Linked DNA regions of Homo sapiens. The protein of the gene in region 1 interacts with the protein of each later gene in a pairwise test. Each region holds a gene or a part of one and is shown in the gene's direction. Other genes may lie near its edges.

Region 1 (4,998 bases):
CATTTCCAGCCTATGACACCCACTTCTTCCCCTCCTGTCCTCACTGCCCAGGGGAGACCGGCATTGGCAAATCCACACTGATGAACACACTCTTCAACACGACCTTCGAGACTGAGGAAGCCAGTCACCATGAGGCATGCGTGCGCCTGCGGCCCCAGACCTATGACCTCCAGGAGAGCAACGTGCAGCTCAAGCTGACCATTGTGGATGCCGTGGGCTTTGGGGATCAGATCAATAAGGATGAGAGGCAAGAGGCGGGAAGGGCGGCCCCACCCAGCCTCCTCCCACCCCACCTACATTGGCCCCTATAACAGTAGCCCAGCCCTCACACTGCAGGGGGCCAGGGAGGGCCTCTTGGGGAATATCTGAGGCTCTGTGGTCACCAACAGACCAGTTACTCCTTTAGGTGTCTGGAGAAGGGGTCAGCTGCCTGTATCCAGTCAGGGATCTCAGGCAGAAGCTGTTCCCAGAAAGAAAAGGCCAGGGGGCAGCCTGGCTTGGCCCCGAGCCCTGAGCCCCCCAAGCCCCAAGCCCCTGATCTCAGCTGGCAGCCTCCTGGGTGATGGAGCTGTCTGTAGTTACAGGCCCATAGTTGACTACATCGATGCGCAGTTTGAAAATTATCTGCAGGAGGAGCTGAAGATCCGCCGCTCGCTCTTCGACTACCATGACACAAGGATCCACGTTTGCCTCTACTTCATCACGCCCACAGGGCACTCCCTGAAGTCTCTAGATCTAGTGACCATGAAGAAACTAGACAGCAAGGTATCCCTGTCCCCACCTGCTGTCACAGGCTCCATAGTCTTCTGCTGCGATGCGATGTGGTGGCTGCCTCATGCCTGAACACCATGGTCCTCAGGGACCTGGTCGGGGGCTTGTGGGTGGCCCCCCATTGGCTCGGTCCTCTCTCTGTCTTGCGTCTGTTCCTCCTGCTCCAGTGGCCCCCAATGCTCTGGGCTCATTCTCCAGAGTCCTGTGCCCTGGGTCTGACCCTGAGCCCCTTGCTTGCAGCTGAATCATTCTCATTGTCAGCCCCTCCCGCTCCCGATAGTGTTTGTTCCCCTTCGCTCCAGGGAACCTCCCTTCCCATCTCAGCCTCTTCTCTGCTCATTTTCTATCTCTCAATTCCTAATTTCTAGCTCCTCCTTTCACTTCCCCCTTCCTCCCTGACATAAATGTCCTTTGGTTCCTTCTGAGCCCATCAGGGAGAGGAGAGTTAAGGCCCAGAAATGGGATGTGAATGAGGGGTGGGTACTGTAGGGGTAGAGAAGGGAGGCAGCTTCATGGGAAGGACTGGAAGTGCTGTGCATCTTGAAGGGCATGTGACCCCACATCCCTTGTCAGCTCTCACGTGACTGCCCTCCCATCTCAGGAGTTCATTTTTATTGTAAAAAACGGGATAGCCTGGGCCTGGGAGATTTTGGGATCTTCTTATGGCTACTGCTGATGGGTCCTTTTACCTGCTTAGTGGGGAGCATAGCCCCCCCACCACTCCTTCTGTTAGGCCCCAGGCCAATTAGGACCTTCAAAGGATTCTGGGTCAAAGCTGGGTATGCCTAGGGGGACCAGTTTTGGGGCTGGATGGTGATTTGGGGGAACCAGGGCTGTAAGAAGCACTGCAGCCAATTGTTGAAACTCATCAGAATGGCCACAGGTGGCTGGGTTTGCACTATGGCTGCCCGTGGGAGTGGCTCCATCTCTCTGGCCTCCTTCCCCCTGCCCAGGGATATGGCCTGGGCATGTCTATCCATATCCTGGGCATGGCATGGGAACCACCGCTCAAAAGAGCCAACCAGCCTGCTGTCCCCTCCCCTGATCCTGGCAGGTGAACATTATTCCCATCATCGCCAAGGCTGACACCATCTCCAAGAGCGAGCTCCACAAGTTCAAGATCAAGATCATGGGCGAGTTGGTCAGCAACGGGGTCCAGATCTACCAGTTCCCCACGGATGATGAGGCTGTTGCAGAGATTAACGCAGTCATGAATGTGAGCGTTGGGTGAGGGCCTCAGGGCCCTGGGGCCAGAGGGCGAGGAGCCGGCACAGATCTGACACAGCCCCAGGAGACTCTTGTTCCCCAGGATTCCAGCCTTAGCTTCTCCAGGACAGAAGGGTGGGCATCTGGAGCTGGCCAGTCCTACATCTGTGGGCAGGGGACAGGAAGAATCTGATAGTGGGCCTACACTGGGGACCCCAGGTTTGGGTGTCATAAGATCTGGACTCATGGAGGAGCCTGGAAATGGAAGCAGTTGAGCAGGCTTAAGGGTTTGGGAACCTGGAAGGGAGCCAGGCTCACAGGTCCTTTCAGGAAGCTCTAATGGCCCCTGGGAGGCCCGAGTGCTGAAAGAACAGCCTGGAGAATCAGGAGCACCAGGGAGGGGGTTGAGGGTTCAGCCCACTCCCCTGTTTGGAGTTCTGGGACATTTCTCCAGAAGAGAGCCAGGAAGTAAGCATCTGGCCCTGGAGCCTTTGTTCAGGTCTGGCTGCCCCTCCCTAGGACCCAGGGGCAGGGAGGGAGAGTCTGCCATTAGTCTGTGTCAGCTCAGGGCTTACGCATACCCGGGCCCCTTTCCAGGCACATCTGCCCTTTGCCGTGGTGGGCAGCACCGAGGAGGTGAAGGTGGGGAACAAGCTGGTCCGAGCACGGCAGTACCCCTGGGGAGTGGTGCAGGGTGAGTGTGGACAGGAAATGCATCCTGGGGGTAGAACTGAGTTCCCTGGCCTGCCCTGCTGCCTGTAGTACCCTGTGCTGTTTCCTCCTCATGCCCACCTGCGTGCCTACCCTGACTCTGGAGTGTGCCCGCCTGCATGCCTGCCTGATACCCCACCGGCCCTCTGCTTTCAGTGGAGAATGAGAATCACTGCGACTTCGTGAAGCTGCGGGAGATGTTGATCCGGGTGAACATGGAAGACCTCCGCGAGCAGACCCACAGCCGGCACTACGAGCTCTACCGGCGCTGCAAGTTGGAGGAGATGGGCTTTCAGGACAGCGATGGTGACAGCCAGCCCTTCAGGTGACAGCCTGAGCCAGAGTGAGCCTGTCTTCACAGCTGTGGCCAGACACACCACCCTGGCATCTGTTCCCTGAGGGACCCCACATCCTCTTACCCCTCGTGCCCACATGATTCTACTTCTCTGGCTCTGCCCTGCCCTATCCCATTCCGTCATAATCCCATCCTTGGCCTCTTTTCTCTGGGTCTCCACAGCCTACAAGAGACATACGAGGCCAAGAGGAAGGAGTTCCTAAGTGAGCTGCAGAGGAAGGAGGAAGAGATGAGGCAGATGTTTGTCAACAAAGTGAAGGAGACAGAGCTGGAGCTGAAGGAGAAGGAAAGGGAGGTATGTGCCAGGCTGGGGGCTGGGATGGGGAAGCTGAGGGAGGGAAGGCCTGGCTGAGGGTAGAGGTGGGGGTGCCTTCCTGGCCCAGGCTCAAGCCCTCCTCTTGCTCCCCGCATCTTCTGCCCCCTTTCTGATGCCAGCTCCATGAGAAGTTTGAGCACCTGAAGCGGGTCCACCAGGAGGAGAAGCGCAAGGTGGAGGAAAAGCGCCGGGAACTGGAGGAGGAGACCAACGCCTTCAATCGCCGGAAGGCTGCGGTGGAGGCCCTGCAGTCGCAGGCCTTGCACGCCACCTCGCAGCAGCCCCTGAGGAAGGACAAGGACAAGAAGAAGTAGGTGGCAGGCTGCGCCTGCGCTGGCTCCTCTTGCTCCTGTGGGCTCTTGCTTTCGTTCTTGTCCCTCACCTCCCTTCTCGCTCTCCTGCTCGCCCTCTCTTACCCCTTTCCTGTTTGGTTTTCCCTCATCTTCAGTGGCTCTCCCCCCAGCTTTCTTGGTTGCCTTTTTCTTTCACTAGTGATCCAGTGTCTCGCCGTCTGGATTGCTCTGATACTCATGCAGTCTCACTTGCACAGGCAATCTTGTGCTCCCCCTCCCTCTCCCTTCTCCCTTTTTCTCTCCTTCTCTTCCCCCTTCTTCCTCTTCCTCCAACTTTCTTGCTCACCCATTCGCTCTCCCATAGCCCCCTTGGCAGCTGTGGCCCTGTTGCAGCGTGGTGAAGGTGGGGCTGCACGGGTGAGGAGCAGCGTGGAGAGGGCGAAGCTGCAGGGCTCTGGGAATGCTGGGAATGGTCTTTCAGGCCAGGGGCGGGACAGGACCTGGGAATGTCAGCATCTCCAGCCAGATTCCAAAAGCCGTGGTGGTTTCTGCTTGGACACCTGTGGCGCATCCCTCCTCAGTCTGTGGGGCAGTGGTGTGGAGCCCGTATTGGCTGGCAGGTGGTGATGGAGAACTGCGGGCACTCGCGCCAGCCAACACTGGCCTCCTGGAGACTGGTCACCACACAGCTGTTCTGAAGGGCCCGCAGGGCTTAAGGGAGGAAAGCGGCTTCCCACAGGGGCTCTGTGGGTTCTTTTGGGGAGAAGAGCTGCCCCTCAAGTAGAGGCTGGAGTTGTTCCTGCAGAGTGGAGAGAGGAGAGAAAGACTGGATGGCAGGGAGGCCTTTCCCAGCACCAGGAGTGCAGTCAACGGAGTAGTCAGGTGGGGACAACTATGAGTCACTTCTCCCTGGCGATCTTCATAGCCTGTTTCCACACCCTTAGCTGGAGTCCAGATGTCCTGGCTTCTGGGGCTCACCCTCGCCCACCCACCTCATTCACAGCCATGCTATGTCACACTGTGGGGATCCCATCCATCCCTGCTTCTCCCTGCCCCGGCCTATCTTGGGTACCATCCTTCTCTTGCCAACCTAGGAACTAAGCAGGTGAACCCAACCTGGCCGTCATTCTCGGGATCCATTTCCTCCTGGGATATTTGGGGATGTGTATGCCCAGGCCCTTCCTTCCTTGGTGGCAATGGAGCCTAGCCATTAGGGCCAGCGGGAGTCTGTGACCCAGGTACTGGCACCCAAAGTGACTTTGCCCTGCTTCCTGCCATCTTGTTAAAGAAAAGGTAGCCAGGATTCCCTAGGAAATAAGCTGTGGAGAAACCACTCAGCAACTGCA
Region 2 (4,248 bases), on another chromosome or scaffold:
AATCTGGACAATTCTTTTTATGTTTGTGGAATGTAATATCTCAGAAGTTGAGATTTAGTTGAGTCTATTGAGTCTATTGTCCTTTGCCTAGTGTATTTCTCATATGAAAACTTTGGTTTGTGATCATGAGGGTGTATGCATTATTTTTATTTTTTCTTTTTTTGCAGTTCATAGCCCTGATGAAGCAAGTTACTCTGCTCTCCTAATAAATGCAAGAAAATGACCTTGGAGGGCCTTTTTAATTACACATAGAAGTGACAATTTGTAAGTTTAAGGTTGGGTGTCATGGAATAGAATGGAAGAAATTGATGCTAAAAACTTTGGCTATGATGGGGCCTTTCCTAGCCCAGGACTTGAATGATTATTAAGGATCCTTTCCTCACCTCAAAGCACAAACATAAAGATTACCAGACTTGGACTGGAAAGCCTTTATCACTAGGAAAGGGGCCATGTATTTTTACGTTTAATCCCTTAGACCCATAGTGTACGATGTGCACACAGTAAATGTTCAGTGACCAAATTTTGGTTACTCTAAAACGAATTCAGTATTTACTTTTTGCCTTTAGTTCTTCAGGTAGAGGTAGGACATAATGTGATAGAGAGCAGTTGAAGAAAGTTAATTTTTAAAACCTTAGATTTTTTTGGGCTTACTTGTTGAGGGAAGTAAACTACATTTTCTCTCTCTTTTTTTTTTTTTGAGACAAGTTCTTGCTCTGTCACCCAGGGTGGAGTGCAGTGGTGGGATCTCGGCTCACTGCAGTGGGTTCAAGTGAGTCAGCCTCCGGAGTAGCTGGGATCACAGGCGCATGCCGCCGTGTCTGTCTAATTTTTGTATTTTTAGTAGAGACGGGGTTTTACCATGTTGGCCAGGCTGGTCTCAAACTCCTGACCTCAAGTGACCCACCTACCTCGGCCTCCCAAAGTGCTAGATTACAGGTGTGAACCACCATGACTGGCCAGTTTTCTATTACTTTGAAAGCGCTCACAATTGACATCTGTCTCTTTGTATTTTTTGTTAGAGAGATGAGGTTTCACTATGTTGCTCAGGTTGCCCAGGCTAGTCTTGAACTCCAGAGCTGAGTCCTCCCGCCCTGGCTTCCTAACTGCGATTACAAGTGTGCACCTGTGTGGCTGGTGGAAGTAATATTTTAAACTATTGATCATTTAGTGTCTCCTGTGCAGGAGATTTTATTATTTTGAGAATTCATGGCATCTTCCATGAGAGTTTATAAGGACTTACTTTAAGTGAAGATTTCAGTGGTGTGGGTCCACACTGAGGCATAAAATAATCTTTTTGTTTGTTTGTTTCCCACTTAAACCAGGGTAAGGAACAAGAAATAGCAATGTTATTAGCAAGTTGCTTGAGGTTGAACTTCATGGCTTGCTTTAATTTAGCACAAAGTACACTAAATGCAATTTAAATTTTTTATTGATTACTCTTTGTCATAATCTTTACGAGCATCAGTTACTTCCATGTGGAAATGCCATGATGCACTTAACATATAGAGGCTGAGTGTTGGTGGTTGTAACTTTTTAAGTTGGGGACACTTGACACTGAAACCCATGGAAGCTCTCCCCCAGAAAACATGGGTGTTTCCTTAAGCACATCCTTGGATTCTAGTTTAAGTGTTTAAATTCTGGTGACTTCTTTTTATGATTTCTCTGTGATCCTTTTACTGCCACTGTTACCATGTATTGTAGTTAAAATGCCTGTTGAGAACAGTGATTTTTCTGCTTATTGGTCATTAACTTGAAAATCAAATAAGAAGCCTGTTAGAAGTTTTTAAAACTTGTGTACACTGGCTCCAAGTAGGAGCCTCAGGGGTTTTCTTTTGAGAAAAACCCACTGGTTTTACTGTGGCCTTTATTTAAGTTGCTTAGAGGTCTCCTCAATGCCTTCCTTTTGATTATTCTAGTTAGGGACTTCTTTTTTTTTTTTGAGATAGAGTCTTGCTCTGTTATGCAGGATGGAGTGCAGTGGCATGATCTGGGCTCACTGCAACGTCTGTCTCCTGGGTTCAAGCAATTCTCCTGCCTCAGCCTCCCGAGTAGCTGGGATTACAGGCGTGTGCCACCATGCCCTGCTAATTTTTGTATTTTTAGTAGAGACGAGGTTTCACCATGTTGGCCAGGCTGGTCTCGAACTCTTGACCTCAGGTGATGCACCCGCCTCAGCCTCCCCAAGTGGTGGGATTAGAAACGTGAGCCACCATGGCCGGCCATAGTTAGGGACTTCCTAAGGAGTGATTGTGTCTGATCCTTAATTTTGTAAGCTTTCGGTTGCTTGTCCAGCACCTGGTAATTGATTCACATTGAACTAAACACGCATAATGGTGGTTTATAAACATCATACTACTGATCGGTTGATTTATAGGACAGATCAGTTGCCTTTCTCTGTAAAGAGCCAGGTAGTCAATATTTTAGGTTTTGTGGGTCATATGGTCTGTCGCAACTGCTCAAGTCTGCAGTTGTGCCAGAGCAACCATGGGCAAAATGAATGTGAAAGTGATATTTATGGATATAGAAATGTAAAATTTTTATGAATTTTGTATGTCATGAAATGTTCTTTGGCCCTCTACCCTCAACCATTTCAATATGTGAAAATCACTCTTAGCTCAAAAACCATACAGAAACAGGCTGTTGACCCCTGATTGGTTGATTGATTGATTTGAGACAGGGTCTCACCCTGTTGTCCAGGCTGGAGTGCAGTGGTGTAAATTCCAGGGCTCACTTGATCCTCCCATCTCAGCCTCCCCAGTAGCTGGGACTGCAGGCATCCCACACCAGGCCTGGCTAGTTTTTTGTATTTTTTGTAGAGATGGGGTTTGCTATGTTTCTTTGTTCTCGAACTCCTGAGCTCAAAGGTTCTGCCCACTTTGGCCATCACTCCCTGGCCTCCCCAGATTTATAGTAAGACACAGCAGCTACTTGATTGTTTCTGCTGGTGGCTGAGCTCCCTTCTAGGAACCTGAAAATGCAAGTTGAAATTAGAAGTTTGTTTGGAGGTAGTTGGCTACGCTGAGGGCTGTGGGTTGTTTTTGTTTCGCTCTTTTTGCCCAGGCTGGAGTGCAATGGTGGTTTTTTTTTTGGGGGGCAGGCTCTCTCTGCTGCTCAGGCAGTAGTGCAGTGGCACGATCACGGCTCAGCAACCTTCTGGTCTCAGGCAGTTCTCCTGCCTTAGCTTCTGGAGTAGCTGGGATTCTGATCCTAGATCCCTTTTGAGGATAAAATGTGTAAGAACAAATACCTTGGTCATCTCTCACACCCTCCGGGGGGGTCAAGCTAAGAAGACCTGTGTAAGAGGATATGTATTATAAGATTGTGTTCCACTACAGAGGGAGATAATGTCAAGTAGGGTGTATGTGTCACAGCAATCAGAAGTTAATGCCTACCACTCCGGGAGAACTCATACTCCTGTGGTAGTGTTTAAGGAACTGCTGACACATTCTTCCAGCTTTACCTTTTGTGTGCTTCACTATGCAAAATGAATGGCATTTGTGACCATCTTGCCATGAATCTGTGTTTCAGTTTTCAAGTTAACAGACTGTTGTTCATTGATTACATTTTCAGTTTTTGCTCTCTGATAACGTATCATGGCCTTAGTCATTCACATGACCTCTTTTTAAATCCCAGTGTACATCCAGGAGGAAGAAGCCCATAGTCCAGGAATCTGGGAGGAGGTGGCTGGCACAGGAGGAGAGTGCCCCTCCACCCACCTGGGGAACTGGTCTTTGGTTCTTCCACTGCCTTTGCACTAGATCTACTTATGTGTGTTTGTGCAAGTTGATAAACATGCAGAAATCCATGTACTCCTCTTTAAAAGTAGGAAAGGTGGATTAAATTATTTTAAATTGTTTTTGAAATCCTCTCTAGCTCTGCAGTTAATTATGATTTTATGGGTTTCTTTTGGGAAGATTTCTTTTTTTTTTTGAGATGGAGTCTTGCTTTGTCACCCAGGTTGGAGTGCAGTGGCATGATCTTGGCTCACTGCAACCTCCATCTCCTGGGTTCATGCAATTCTCCTGCTTCAGCCTCCCAAGTAGCTGGGATTACAGGCATGTGCCACCATGCCTGGCTAATTTTTGTATTTTTGGTAGAGGCAGGGTTTCACCATATTGGTCAGGCTGGTCTTGAACTCCTGACCTCAAGTGATCCACCCACCTCACCCTCCCAAAGTGCTGGGATTACAGGCGTGAGCCACCACGCCTGGCTTTCTTTTGGGAAGATTTCTTCTAGACACAATCTGTG
Region 3 (4,248 bases), on another chromosome or scaffold:
CTCCTACATGAAATTAAATGAAATGGACCAAGGCAGACACTGGTCTTCCCTGCAAAGCTAGGTCTTTGCTGCTGGTCTCCTCTCTCTCTGGACATTACACAGGCTCGGGCCTCCATGGAATAATTTTGCACTTCTGCTGCAGGTAGAACAAGTCAGCCAGTTGGCTGTGTTCATAGAGGCAGCATTAGACTATCACAGACAGTCCACAGAGATTCTGCAGGAGCTGCAGAGCAAGCTACAGATGCGGTAAGCACCTCCACGTTTCTTACAAGCCAAGGGCTGCGGAGGTAACATCTATTGAAATCCATCTGTCTGTCTCTCCATCTCTCCATCTCCCCCTTCCCCTGCCTCATTCTGTTTTGAATTTTCTTTCACTGGCTTTCATGGTTGGATGTGGGATGGGACTGAGATAATAAGTACTGGCTTTGGCCAGTAGGATAGAACTGGGAAAAGGGACCTGGCAGCTTTTCTCCTTTTTCTTTTCATTAAATCCCTTTTTTTTGTGACCCGTGTTTAGGGCAACTAACCAAGTTGCTCTCCCACCTGGGACATCAACCCCTACAGAACTACCCTGGCTTCATTGCTGATTTGATGAGAGTTTAACTCCCCATTCACAAAGGGATGGAAAACATCCAGAGCTATGGAAAAAAGTGAGATGCTGTATGGAAAATATGTAAATATCTGTAAAAAAAAAAAAAAAAAAAAAAGGTAGTGCCTTCACTTCACCAGTACGAATTTCAGGATATGTTCATAATATTGACTAGTATTGAAAGAGTCAAAATATTGACAAATTTCAGGCTGTGTTCATAATATTGACAGGTATTGAAAGAGTCAAAAATATCTTCTGAACAATCAAAGAAAGGTTTCTGCATTCCTTGTGAATTTAATCATAGATGTAGTCTATACTTTTCTGAAAATTAGTAATATTATATATAGTCTGCATGGCAACCCTGTTTATTAAAATATTTTAAATTAGGTTTGATAACAGAAAATTGTTTTACACAGGATTATGGTAATGCATAAATTTGGAGGGATTTTTACTTAAATCAATGACGTAGTTACCTAGGGAAGACAAAGATGTGTTCAGTCCCTGAAGCATCCACTTCTGCAGGCAGATAGTTTACCTGTTACTGACAGGAGTGTATTTTCATAATTCTATCATAATCTATAAGAGTAGAGTGAGGGAGAAGGCAGCTCCCATCACTGGGTGCCGACCGCGTCCCAGGCACTTGCTGGATGCCTCAGAGACTTGATGAAGAAAATTAGTCTTTTGTTTTGTTTTGTTTTGTTTTGAGATGGAGTCGTGCTCTGTTGCCCAGGCTGGAGTGCAGTGGCGCCATCTTGGCTCACCGTAACCTCTGCTCACTGCAGCCTCCACCTTCCAGTTTCAAGAGATTCTCCTGCCTAAGCCTCCCGAGTAGCTGGGATTACAGGCGCCCACCACCATGCCTGGCTAATTTTTGTATTTTTCGTAGAGATGGGGTTTCACCATGTTGGCCAGGCTGATCTCGAACTCCTGACCTCAGGTGAGCACCTTGGCCTCCCAAAGTGCTGGGATTACAGGCATGAGCCACCATGGCTGGCCCAATTAGTCTTCTTCAAGATGAATTTCACTCACAAGCTCAAATAGGGAGTTGAAAAACTGCATTTGTGATATCACCTCCATCACTTCGGGCTACTCAAGAGTCAGTGTGTAAAAATCGTCCCTTTCATGACCACTGGCTGTAACCTAAGTTCCTGTGCTCAACAAGGCAGAGAGGATGTGTGTTTGGAAAGCTTTCAACATCAGATGTCTGGCTCATCTTACGATGTGTGTTACAGAATATCAGCTGCATCCAGTGTCCCCAGACGAGAATACAAGCCAAGGCCTGTGAAAAGGAGTTCTAGTGAGCTCAATGGAGTTTCCACCACCTCTGTAGTGAAGACGACAGGTAAGTTGACCATTCTAATATGCTAAGTGTGCCTTTAGTAAAGCACTTCTAGAAACACTTATTTACTGCTTGTTTCTGGGTCAGTGAATACACACAGACCCTGGATATCTTTCTTTGGTTGTTTGGTAAATTCCCTTTTCCCCTAAACGTGCCCCTTTTTTCTGTTCCCTGGGGAAGAATTCTATCACTTATATAATGTAGCATTTAGAACCTTGGCCATAGAACCATTATGGCTACATCATCCTTTATTTTTTTAACTCTTTGAAAATATTTTCTTAATTTATTTTTAAGTTGAAATTAGCATTTTTGAGCAACTGCTATATGCTAGATACTATCTTAAGTGCTGCATCGTTATTTTTTATTAAACAAGTGATGCAAATGTGTCTTTTAGTAAAATAATCAAACAGAAAAAAATTGGTAAAATAATCAAACAGAAAAAAAAATTTAATGGTATAAGTCATTCTATAGTCTCTTGTGATCACCTACACCATCGCAGTTCGCTTCCTAGATGTAGCCACTGTTAAAAAAATTTGGTATAACTATTATCATATCTATTGAGGTACATAAATATACACATAAACAGCGTTTTGGATTTTTTTCTGTTTTTTCTTTTTTTCTTTTTTGAGACAAAGTCTTGCTCTGTCACCCAGGCTGTAGTGCAATGGCATGAACATGGCTCGGTGCAGCCTTGACCTCCTGGGCTCAAGCAATCCTCCTGCCTCAGCCTTCCATGTAGCTGGAACTACAGGTGTATGTGACCCTGCCAGGCAAATTTTTTTATTTTTTGTAGAGACAAGGTCTTACTTTGTTGCCCAGGCTGGCCTGCAACTCCTGGGCTCAAGCAATCCTTCTGCCTCGGCCTTCTGAAGTGCTGGGATTATAGGCATGAGCCACTGTACCCAGCCTTTTTTCTGTTTTTTAAATGCGAGATTATACTAGGCATATTGTTTGGCAGTTTGCTTTTTAAAATGTATCACTGTTTCTTCGAGTTATTTCCATATCATGCATATAGATCTATCCCACTGTTTTAACAGCTTCATAGTTTTCTATTATACCATTTCCCTATTGGTGGACGTTAAGGTTTTTTCCAGTTATTTGCTACAGTGAGTATCCTTTATCACTGTGCTGGCTACATTACTATTAAAGCATGAACACCTGCTTCCCCACACCCATGCCAGTAGACTTCCATTTCTGCCAAGCACTCATGAGAAAAAAATGGTATCCAGTCTTAATTTGCATTTTCATGATTATTAGTGAGGGTGAACTTTCTTTTCTATATTTTAATTTGTATTTCCTTATGTCTGAATTGTCTGTTTATGTCATTTATTTGTGTTTTTTGGGAGTAGTTTGCTTTGTCTTATTGTTTTATAGGAGCTCTTTCCATATGAGGATATTAATAATTTTTTTCCTAGTTTGTCATTTATCTTTAAACTTTGTTTTTGGAGTGCCTTGTCCCTTTGTTGTTTTTGCTGTTGTTTGCTTTGTTTAGTTTTGCTTTGAGTATACAGAAGCTTTTATTTTGATGTAGTCAAATGTGTCTGTCTTTTGCTTGTGACTTTACATTTTGTGCCCTGTCATGATTACATTTTGTGCCCTGTTGTGAAAAGTCTTCCTATCCCTGAAGTTATTCTTCTACAGTTTTCTACTACTTTGAATAATCTTTTCTTAATATTTAGATCTTTATCATAAGGATTTATTTTTCTAAATGAAAAGAAATTCCCAAACTATCTTTCAGAGTTGTGCTACCATTTCACATCCCCACCAGCAATATATTAGTGATCTAGTTTCTCCACATCCCTGCCAGCATTTGCTGTTGTCACTGTTTTTTATTTTAGCCACTTTGATAGGTGTGTAATTAATCTTACTGTGGGTTTAATTTGCATTTCCTTAGTGACTAATGATGTTGAATATCTTTTCATGTGTTTATTTGCCATCTGTGTATCCTCTTTGGTGAAATGTTTCTTCATGTCTTTTGTCCATTTTCTAATTGGATTGTTTACATTTTTACTGTTGAGTCTTGAGAATGCTTGATTTATTCTCAATACAGGTTCTTTCTATATATGTGATTTGCAAATATATTCTCTCGCTCTGTAGCTTATCTTTTAATCCTCTTAATAGGGTCTTTCACAGATCAAAATTTTTAATTCTTATGAAGTCCAATGTATTCATGTTTAGTTTTATAGATTGTGTGAAGTCTAGGAATTCTTTGCCTAGCCCTAAATAATAAATATTTTCTTTTCTTTTTCTTTTTTTTGAGACAGAGTCTCACTCTGTAGCCCAGGCTGGAGTAGAGTGGTGCAATCTCGGCTCACTGCAA

The links.
Region 2: the proteins of SEPTIN8 (region 1) and JADE1 interact in a two-hybrid assay, tested with the Homo sapiens proteins (one large-scale study listed by BioGRID and IntAct).
Region 3: the proteins of SEPTIN8 (region 1) and SH3GL3 interact in a two-hybrid assay, tested with the Homo sapiens proteins (one large-scale study listed by BioGRID and IntAct).

Annotation. Positions count from the first base shown.
Region 1 is NC_000005.10:132,759,473-132,764,470, reverse strand, and holds part of SEPTIN8 (septin-8), read left to right. Parts: intron 1-51; coding exon 52-247; intron 248-578; coding exon 579-765; intron 766-1,825; coding exon 1,826-1,987; intron 1,988-2,574; coding exon 2,575-2,671; intron 2,672-2,844; coding exon 2,845-3,013; intron 3,014-3,205; coding exon 3,206-3,338; intron 3,339-3,478; coding exon 3,479-3,669; exon of another isoform or gene 3,670-4,534; intron 4,535-4,746; exon of another isoform or gene 4,747-4,998. UniProt on the Homo sapiens protein: Filament-forming cytoskeletal GTPase. May play a role in platelet secretion. Seems to participate in the process of SNARE complex formation in synaptic vesicles.
Region 2 is NC_000004.12:128,816,200-128,820,447, forward strand, and holds part of JADE1 (protein Jade-1), read left to right. Parts: intron 1-248; exon of another isoform or gene 249-264; intron 265-4,248.
Region 3 is NC_000015.10:83,586,841-83,591,088, forward strand, and holds part of SH3GL3 (endophilin-A3), read left to right. Parts: exon of another isoform or gene 1-135; intron 136-142; coding exon 143-246; intron 247-517; exon of another isoform or gene 518-673; intron 674-1,821; coding exon 1,822-1,931; intron 1,932-4,248. UniProt on the Homo sapiens protein: Implicated in endocytosis. May recruit other proteins to membranes with high curvature.